Homo sapiens: one gene and its partner. The protein of the gene in region 2 interacts with the protein of the main gene of each other region in a pairwise test. Each region holds a gene or a part of one and is shown on either strand. Other genes may lie near its edges.

Evidence for each region.
Region 1: the proteins of RIMBP3C (region 2) and FARS2 interact in a two-hybrid assay, tested with the Homo sapiens proteins (one large-scale study listed by BioGRID).

The regions. Positions count from the first base shown.
Region 1 is NC_000006.12:5,547,711-5,551,519, reverse strand, and holds part of FARS2 (phenylalanine--tRNA ligase, mitochondrial), read right to left. Parts: intron 1-3,809. UniProt on the Homo sapiens protein: Is responsible for the charging of tRNA(Phe) with phenylalanine in mitochondrial translation.
Region 2 is NC_000022.11:21,548,428-21,552,805, forward strand, and holds the start of RIMBP3C (RIMS-binding protein 3C), read right to left. Parts: upstream 3,035-4,378; 5' UTR 2,550-3,034; coding exon 1-2,549. Other genes in the region: UBE2L3 (ubiquitin-conjugating enzyme E2 L3), read left to right, coding at 1,023-1,223.

The DNA of each region.
Region 1 (3,809 bases), on a different chromosome or scaffold from region 2:
ATTAGCCTTGGAATTGGTCAGTGGGTAGTAGATAACTTGGAGCACCATGATATTAAATGGCTATTTTGCCTTAAAGAGACTCTTGTAGAAATATGGATGTTATAGACTGTGACAGGCAAGGAAAAAGTGAGGAGCATGGTAGAGAAAACCTATACTGTCTGAGAATATCCAAATATTCATAAACATACTGGTGGTAGCAATACAGATGTCAAAAGCCCTGCTGGTGAGGGCTCGCAAGGAAATGAGGAACATGTTAGTGGAAGGTGGAGGAAAGGGGATCCTTGTTCATTCATAGCGGCAGAATTAGATGAATTGGAAGTGGAAAGCAAAACTTGTAAACAATGAACTTGGATATTTAGCTGAGGAAATTTCCAAGCAAACAGTGAAAATGCAGCCTGCTTTATTCTTGCAGGAGAAAACAGACAAATTAAGAGAACTGCTATGCAAAGAGGAGCAAGATTAGATAATTTGGGAAATTCTTAGCCTATCTATACTGAAAAAGACAAAAAGTTAGGGGTTTTGCTGAAAGAAAAGTGCTTTGGAGAGAAAGCCATGAGTGCAGCTATACAACCCTTTGTTAATGCCTCAGAAGTTTTGAAGGATCAGGGTATTTAGTCAAACAGAGGGCTCTTTGAAGAAATTAAGCATATGAGTCAAGGATCCCCTCAGGCGTCTCAGCAGAAGCCAGAAATAGCAATGAATTATTCAAGAAAGATCTGCAGAGGAGCCTCTTGTGTAATGGAATGAATCCCTATGATATAAATGGGAGAGCCACAAGGTTTTTGAGAATGATTTACCATCAGGAACACTGTCAGCTGGAATTGAGAGGGACAAAAGAACAAAAAGAGAAGGAAAGAAAGAAGGCTATTTGACTCCCCAAATTCTTCAGGCAAAAGCCAGGGTAATAAAACAACTCACCTGCATATACATGCCACCCTTAACAAAAAAGGAGGTAAGGCACAGTGGCTCATCATGCCTGTAACCCTGACACTGTGGGAGGCCAAGGCAGGCAGACTGCTTGAGCCCAGGAGTTGAAGAACAGCCTGGGCAACATGGCAAGACACCTTCTCTACTAAAAACACAAAAAATTGGCTGGGCGTGGTACCATGTGCTTGTAGTACCAGCTACTCGGGAGGCTGAGATGTAAGCCTGGGAGGTGGAGGTTGCAGTGAGCCGTGATGGCACCACTGGGCTCCAGCCTGATGAAAGAGCAAGACCTGGCCTCATAAATAAATAAAAGAACTTTAAAAAAGAAGGATATTTTAGAGGGTAGAAATACAGGTCAAATGGGTGAAGCCAAGGGCCACAGAGAATTATCCCCAGGCCTTGAAACCTAATGGCTGAATTTTGAAATAGCTTGGAACCAGTGATTCTTTTTCTTCTCCTTTCATTTTCTCCCTTTTTGAATGGAAATGTCTACAACTATTCTCCAATGCCTATCCTACTCATTGTATTTTGGGAGTAGGTACCTCGCTTCAGGTGCAAAAGTGGGGAGGAATTTTGCCCCAGGATGAATCATACCCAGAGTGTCACATAAACCAGCTTTAGATAATTAAATGATGAAATGGGACTTAGGGGCTGATGATATTTAGATGACATTTTGGATTTTGAGTTGATTTTGCAATGGGTTCAGAGTTTGTGGGACCTTGGGATAGGCTGAATGTATTTTACAAAAGACAGATGTGAATCTTTAGGGGTCAAAGGGAAGACTCTGGTAGACTGAAAAATGCCCCCAACCCTACCCAAAGATATCTACGTCCTAATCCCTGTAACCTAGAAATACATTACCTTATATTCAACAGGAAATTTACATTTCCTTTTGTATTAGAGAATTAATTTGTATTAAAGTATTAAAGGATTACTTTAAGAGAAGTATTTTGAGATGGGAAGATTATCCTGAATTACCCAGCAAGGCTTGATACAATCATAAGGATCCTTATAAGAAAGAAGCAAAGGTCAAAGAGAAGGCAATGTGACAAAAGATGAAGGAGAGAGAAAAGGCAACATGATGCATGGCTGTGATCCAAGGACTGAGGATGGCCTTTAAAAGCCGGAAAAGGTGACAGTTCACAAGGACAGAAAACCAAATACCGCATGTTCTCACTCATAGGTGGGAACTGAACCATGAGAACACCTGGACACAGGGCAGGGAACATCACACACCAGGGTCTGTCGTGGAGTGGGGGGAAGAGGGAGGGATAACATTAGGAGAAATACCTAATGTAAATGACGAGTTAATGGGTGCAGCAAACCAACATGGCACATGTATACATATGTAACAAACCTGCACGTTGTGCACATGTACCCTAGAACTTAAAGTATAATTAAAAAAAAAAAAAAGCCAGAAAAGTCAAGAAGGTGGATTCCCCCAAGAGCCTACAGAAGGAGTCAGCCCTGCTGACACCTTAACTTTAGCCCAGTTGGGTGGATTTTGGTTTTCTGACCTCTAGAACTGTAAAATAATAAATACATGTTGTTTTAAGCTACTAGATTTGTGGTAACTGGTTACCTAAGCAACAGGAAACTAACAAGAATAGATACTAATTATAAGTGAATACTTAGGTAATAGTATGATCTATAATCTATACTTCACAAAGTATTTTATGAACATATACTAAATATGAATGTACAAATCCTAATTGCCCCGTTAGAAGTTCTTAAGTTTGTTACACAAAGACAACTATAAAAATTATATATTAGTGCAGGTATGCATATATTGGCTTTCAAATTTGAAGGCAGAAAGGAGAAAAAAAATGACATTTAGTGCAAGAGATCAAGAGTCTATTTCTATGTGTCTCATAAAAAAAGATTGTTGTAAGTACACTTAAAATTGAATTTAAGCCACTTAATTCTGGTGGCAACTGTGTTTTTCATCTTTATTTGTCACACCATGGTGTTGAGCACACCATTCTACACGATGTTGGTGTTCTTTAAATGTTTGCTGATTAAATAACTGACAATATATTAAAAAGAGAATGAGAAAAAGTTACAGCCCTAGCCAGGTTTTATTGTAAATTAGATACAGCTTTATTTCAAATTAGTCTACAAGGAAATTGATGCTAAAATAAAACAGATAATTATTCAAGTAGAAGTTTTTAAAAGTCCTCATAAGGTAAAACCAAAAATATATGCATATATACATAGAAAGGTTCAAGATGCAGATGGGCACACACACAAAATCAGTGTGCTTCACTATAACAATAACAAAATACACTCATAAAAATCATACCTGTCCTTAAAGTTGATGATATGGTTTGGCTGTGTCCCCGCCCAAATCTCAACTTCAATTGTATCTCCCAGAATTCCCACATGTTGTGGGAGCAACTCAGGTGGAGGTAATGGAATCACAGGGGCCGGTCTTTCCTGTGCTATTCTCGTGATAGTGATTAAGTCTCACAAGATCTGATGGGTTTATCAGGGGTTTCTGATTTTGCTTCTTCATCATTTTCTCTTGCTGCTGCCATGTAAGAAGTGCCTTTCGCCCACCGCCATGATTCTGAGGCCTCCCCAGCCATGTGGAACTGTACGTCCAATTAAACCTCTTTTTCTTCCCAGTCTGGGGTATATCTTTATCAGCAGCATGAAAATGGACTAATACAGTTGAAAAGGTCTGTACACAAATATAAATAAGTATAACTCCAGAGAGAGATGAGCCCTTCTAGGGTAGACAGACACTGATGGCTGCTGTCGCCACTGGGGCGTGAGTAGGCAGAAGAGCTAGCCTGCTACTGGCAAAGACATTTTGTTGGAATAAGAAGAATGAGCCACACTTGCGTCAGCCAAGCATGGGCTGGCATGGCAGATTGGAA
Region 2 (4,378 bases):
TTGGGCCCCTCAAATGGGTTGTAGTTATACTGAGCCATGAAGATCTTGAGCTTGGGGGCAGCAGGAGCCGCCGAGCCCCCCATTTCCAGGGCCAGGGACACGCTGTCAGGCTCCAGGTCATCCACCTCACTGGCTGTGTCCCTGTCCAGAGTAGGGGAGGACGGCACGGTGGCCCACATCGACCCCTCAGAGGAGGAGTTTGACTGGGAGCTGGTTTTCTTGGACAGAGGTTGGCTGGCAGGGACTGTCTCTGAAACTTGGGGGACACTGGCTGACTCCCCAAGGGCAACTGGGCTCTCCTCGAGGGAGGCTTCCCTTTTCTCCTGTATGTCTCTGTTGGGCTGTGACACTGCGTAGTCTTCAGGCCGTGCGTGGAACTTGGGCCTTCTGCTACCTTTAACTTGGGACTCCGGCATTTGACTGGTCTCCCAGGGCTGTTCAGGAGGGTGACCAGGCCGACACTGGAGCGCCTGTATCTCCTTCCAGGAAGGATGGAGGTCACACAGGGCCTTCTGCGGGTCGCGTTGCAGCTGCTGCTGCCTGTCCTGCCCGCGCGCCGCCTGCTGCAGCAGCTGTTCGGCGATCAAGCCGGAGGCATCGCGCTCTTGACACGCGCGGCCCAGGTGGCCGCGCACTTCGCTATTCTCAGCCTCCACCTTCCGCACCCAGTCGGTCTTGGCCTGCAGCCGCCCATTCTCCTCCGCCAGCCAGGCGTTTTTGAGCAGCGCCGCCTGCAGCTGTGTCTCGGCCTCCTCGCCACGTCGCCGCGCCGGGGCCGCCTGCGTGCCCAGCTCCTGGCACTCGCGCCGCCGCTGGTCCAGCTCGCGCTCCAGCGCCAGCATCTGCCGTCGCACCTCCTCGCAGGTTGCGCTCTGGCCGCCCGCCTCGGGCCAAGCGCCACCGTTGCCCTGCTGAAGCATCAACTGCCTCTGCAGGCGCAGCACTTCCCGCTGGGACTCGCGCTGCAGGCGGTCTAAGTCTCTGACGTTGAGCCACTGGGTGCAGGGGCCGCCCCTTCCAGTATGCAGGTCGCTGCAGGGACCCGAGGCGACACGCGCCTGCAGGAGGTGGCACTCCTGCCGCAGCTCTTCGATCTGCTTGTCCTTGGCCAGCGGCGCGCTCGCCTGCTCCGACAGGTCCCGAGCGCGCTGGCGGGCAAAGACTTGGCACAGCTCCAGGCCGGCGCAACTCTCGCCGGGTATAGGCGCGCTCACGGCCCGGAGGTTGGTCTCCTGCAGCTCGCGGGCGCGGTCAGCTAGGCGCCGCGCGAGCCCGGTCAGCTCCGCGCGCTTTACCTTGAGCCGCTTCACCTTCTCGTCTGCCTGGTAGGGGCAGCCTGCACGCCGCAGCTGCTTGTTCTCCTCTTGCAGGGTATAACAGCGGCGCGCCAGCACCCACAACGCCTTGGCCAGCAGCCAGTTCAGCTTTATCAGCTCGTGGTGGCCCAGGCCCGGGGGTGAGGGAGTCAGGACTTCGCAGGGCTGGCTCTCAGAGCCTTCTCCTCCCCGCGGGTTGCTGAGTTTCCTGTGGGCTGACGGTGGTGGTGGCGGCGGGAGTGGCGATGGTGGCGGCGAGAGCCTCCGGGAGCCAGGGGTGGAGGTGTCTGGTGAGGAGGGCCGCTCCTCGGATTTGGAGGCCTTGGGGAGGCTCCGGGTGCTGTCAAGCGAGCGGGAACACGCAGGTGCGAAGCAATCAAGGGAGCTGGCGTGCGTGGAGAGCAGGCCGTCTGGGGAGCTGGAGCACGCAGAGGACACCAGGCCTAGCGAGCGGGAGCGCACACCGACTTCAGCACTCAGGCTGTCTAGAGATCCGAGTTGGCAGGCGGGTTTGGGGGCGTGGCAAGAGCCGCTGGAGGTCTGGGGCAGCGGTTCTTCCAAGGAATGCACAGCTTGGGGGTCCGGTGATCCCGACAAAGCCGGGTGCCCGCGGAAGTGCGCCAGGATGTACTTGAGGAAGAGCTGGCGCTCCACCTCCAGCGCCGCCTGCAGATAGCGGATGCGCGCCGCCTGCTCGCCGTCAGTCTGCCAGCGAAGCTGCGCCAACACTTCCTGCAGGCGACAGCGGCACTGCGCCGCGGAAACCTCGGACGCCCCCGGGCGGCTACAGTGGCCGCGGTTCACCAGCTCCTCGGCCAGCTGGCGCTGCAGCTCCCGGGCTTGGCGCACCACGCCATCGCGCTCCCGGTGCAGCAGCTGCTGCAGCTGCCGCTGCTCGGCCTCCTTCCAGCGCAGCAGCTGCCGGATCTCGGCCTCGCGTTCCCGCTGCATCTCCTCTTGCAGCTGCCGCAACTCCCGGCTGCGCTGTGCCTCCCACTTGGAGCGCAGACGGTCAGCCAGCTGCCGCCGCTCCCGCTCGGCCTCCTCACGCAGCTGGCGCTCCCGGGCAGCGAAGCGCCGCCGTTCCGCCCGCCAGCCTGCCCGCTCCGCCTCCAGCTCCGCCCGTAGCTTCTCCAGCTCCCGCCTCTGGTTCTCCAGCACTGCCGCCGCCGGGCTGGAGCAGCCCGGCTTCTTGGGCGACGCGCCCAAGGGGCTGGGCGAGTCCTTGGCCATTGCGGCCGCGGCCCGGCTGGTCTCCAGACTTCGCCTGGCAGGCCTCAGCTCGCCAACGGCCGCCGCCGACCGCCCGGCGCGCCCCTTCCGGCGCCCCCTGGGGGTCTCCGCGTGCCCCTTCCGCCTCTTGGCATGTTCCCCCGCCTCCTGCCGCGGATGTCTGGCCCAGGCGCCTCTCCACCTGGCAAGGCCAGGGCTGGACTCCCACACCCCTGCTCAAACTGGCCCATGTCCCTTCCAGGATGCACGGGGGCTTTTCCGGTCCCTACACTTTTCCTGCTTCTAGCACCAAGTCCCTTGTGACCCTCCCCAGGCACCCTCCCAGGCACTGTGCAGTCCCAAGCAGGCCGCGGTGCCCCGAGGGAAGTCTGGGCTGCTGCTCCTGTACTTGGAGAAAGGGGCAGGGTGTGTGTGTTAAGGCCACCCATGGGGTGTGGGCATACCTGGTCGTGGGTTCAGGTGGTGTATTTGGGTCAGGTGGCTGGAAAATGCAGCAGGATAGGCCTCAACTTGGCTAGACCTGGACTCCCCAGGACCCTTCAGCCCCCTAACAGCCCTGATCACCCAACTGGTCATCCACCTTTTGAGGAAAGGATGTGCCTGATACACATTTGTGTTACTGCGCAGAGTCGGCTCAGAGGAGGTGTAAGCGAAAAGACCCTCCCCAGCAAGGTGGCATAGGGACCCAGGGCCAGATAGGCATGGGGGCACTGCCCAAACTGGCCATCTGGCCTGTCTACCTCCCACATCCAGGTACCACCTGGTGACAAACACTGGAGCCCCAGTGTCTGGGCTACTCATTGGCATCTTAGGTAGAGGCCTCAGGATGGGCCAGGAGTGAGGGTGAGGCTTCAGCAGAAATGTTGGAGGCATCCTGAGCTGCAGAAGAAACACACACACACACACACACACAGCTGCAGAAGAAACATACACACACACACATACTGAGCTGAAGGAATACACACATACACTGAGCTGCAGAAGAAACATACATACACACACTGAACTGAAGAAATACACACACACACACACACACACACACACACACACACACACACACACACTGCCTCTCTGACTGGTGGCCACCTGTGTGGCTTGGGAGCTAAGAAGCCCTGCTTCAGTCTGGCTCCTCTTTGCCCTTCCTGTCTGCTCCTGGTGCCAAGTGGCTTTTTGGAGACATGGATGGACACCTGATACCTGGCAGTCTGCATCGAGACATTGATTTTGTTTTTTGAGATGGGGCCTCACTCTGTCGCCAGGCTGGAGTGCAGTGGCGCAATCTTGGCTCATTGCAACCTCTACCTTCCACGTTCAAGAGATTCTCCTGCCTCAGCCTCCCAAGTAGCTGGGATTACAGGCTTGAGCCACCATGCCCAGCTAATTTTTTGTACTTTTTAGTAGAGACAGGGTTTCAGTATGTTGGCCAGGATGGTCTTGAACTTCTGACCTCAAGTGATCCACCCGCCTCGGCCTCTTAAAGTGCTGCGATTACAGGCATGAGCCACTGTGCCCGACAAGACCTTGATATTGAAGTCACATCAGAGGCCCCTTTGCTTCTTGGTCTGTCGTGTCTCCCTGTCCCCAGGAAGCACCTGGGACCTCTCACAACTGCTGTGTTCACTCAGCTTATGGCCCTCCTTTACAACACTCAAGTTTTTCAAATCAGTTTCCCCGGAACCCACAGAACATGCCTTTAGGCAGTGTCAAGTAACAAGAACATCGGGAATTATGGCTCCAGATGTTCTTTTTTTTTTTTTTTTTTTTTGAGATGGAGTCTCGCTCTGTCGCCCAGGCTGGAATGCAGTGGCGCAATCTCTGCTCACTGCAAG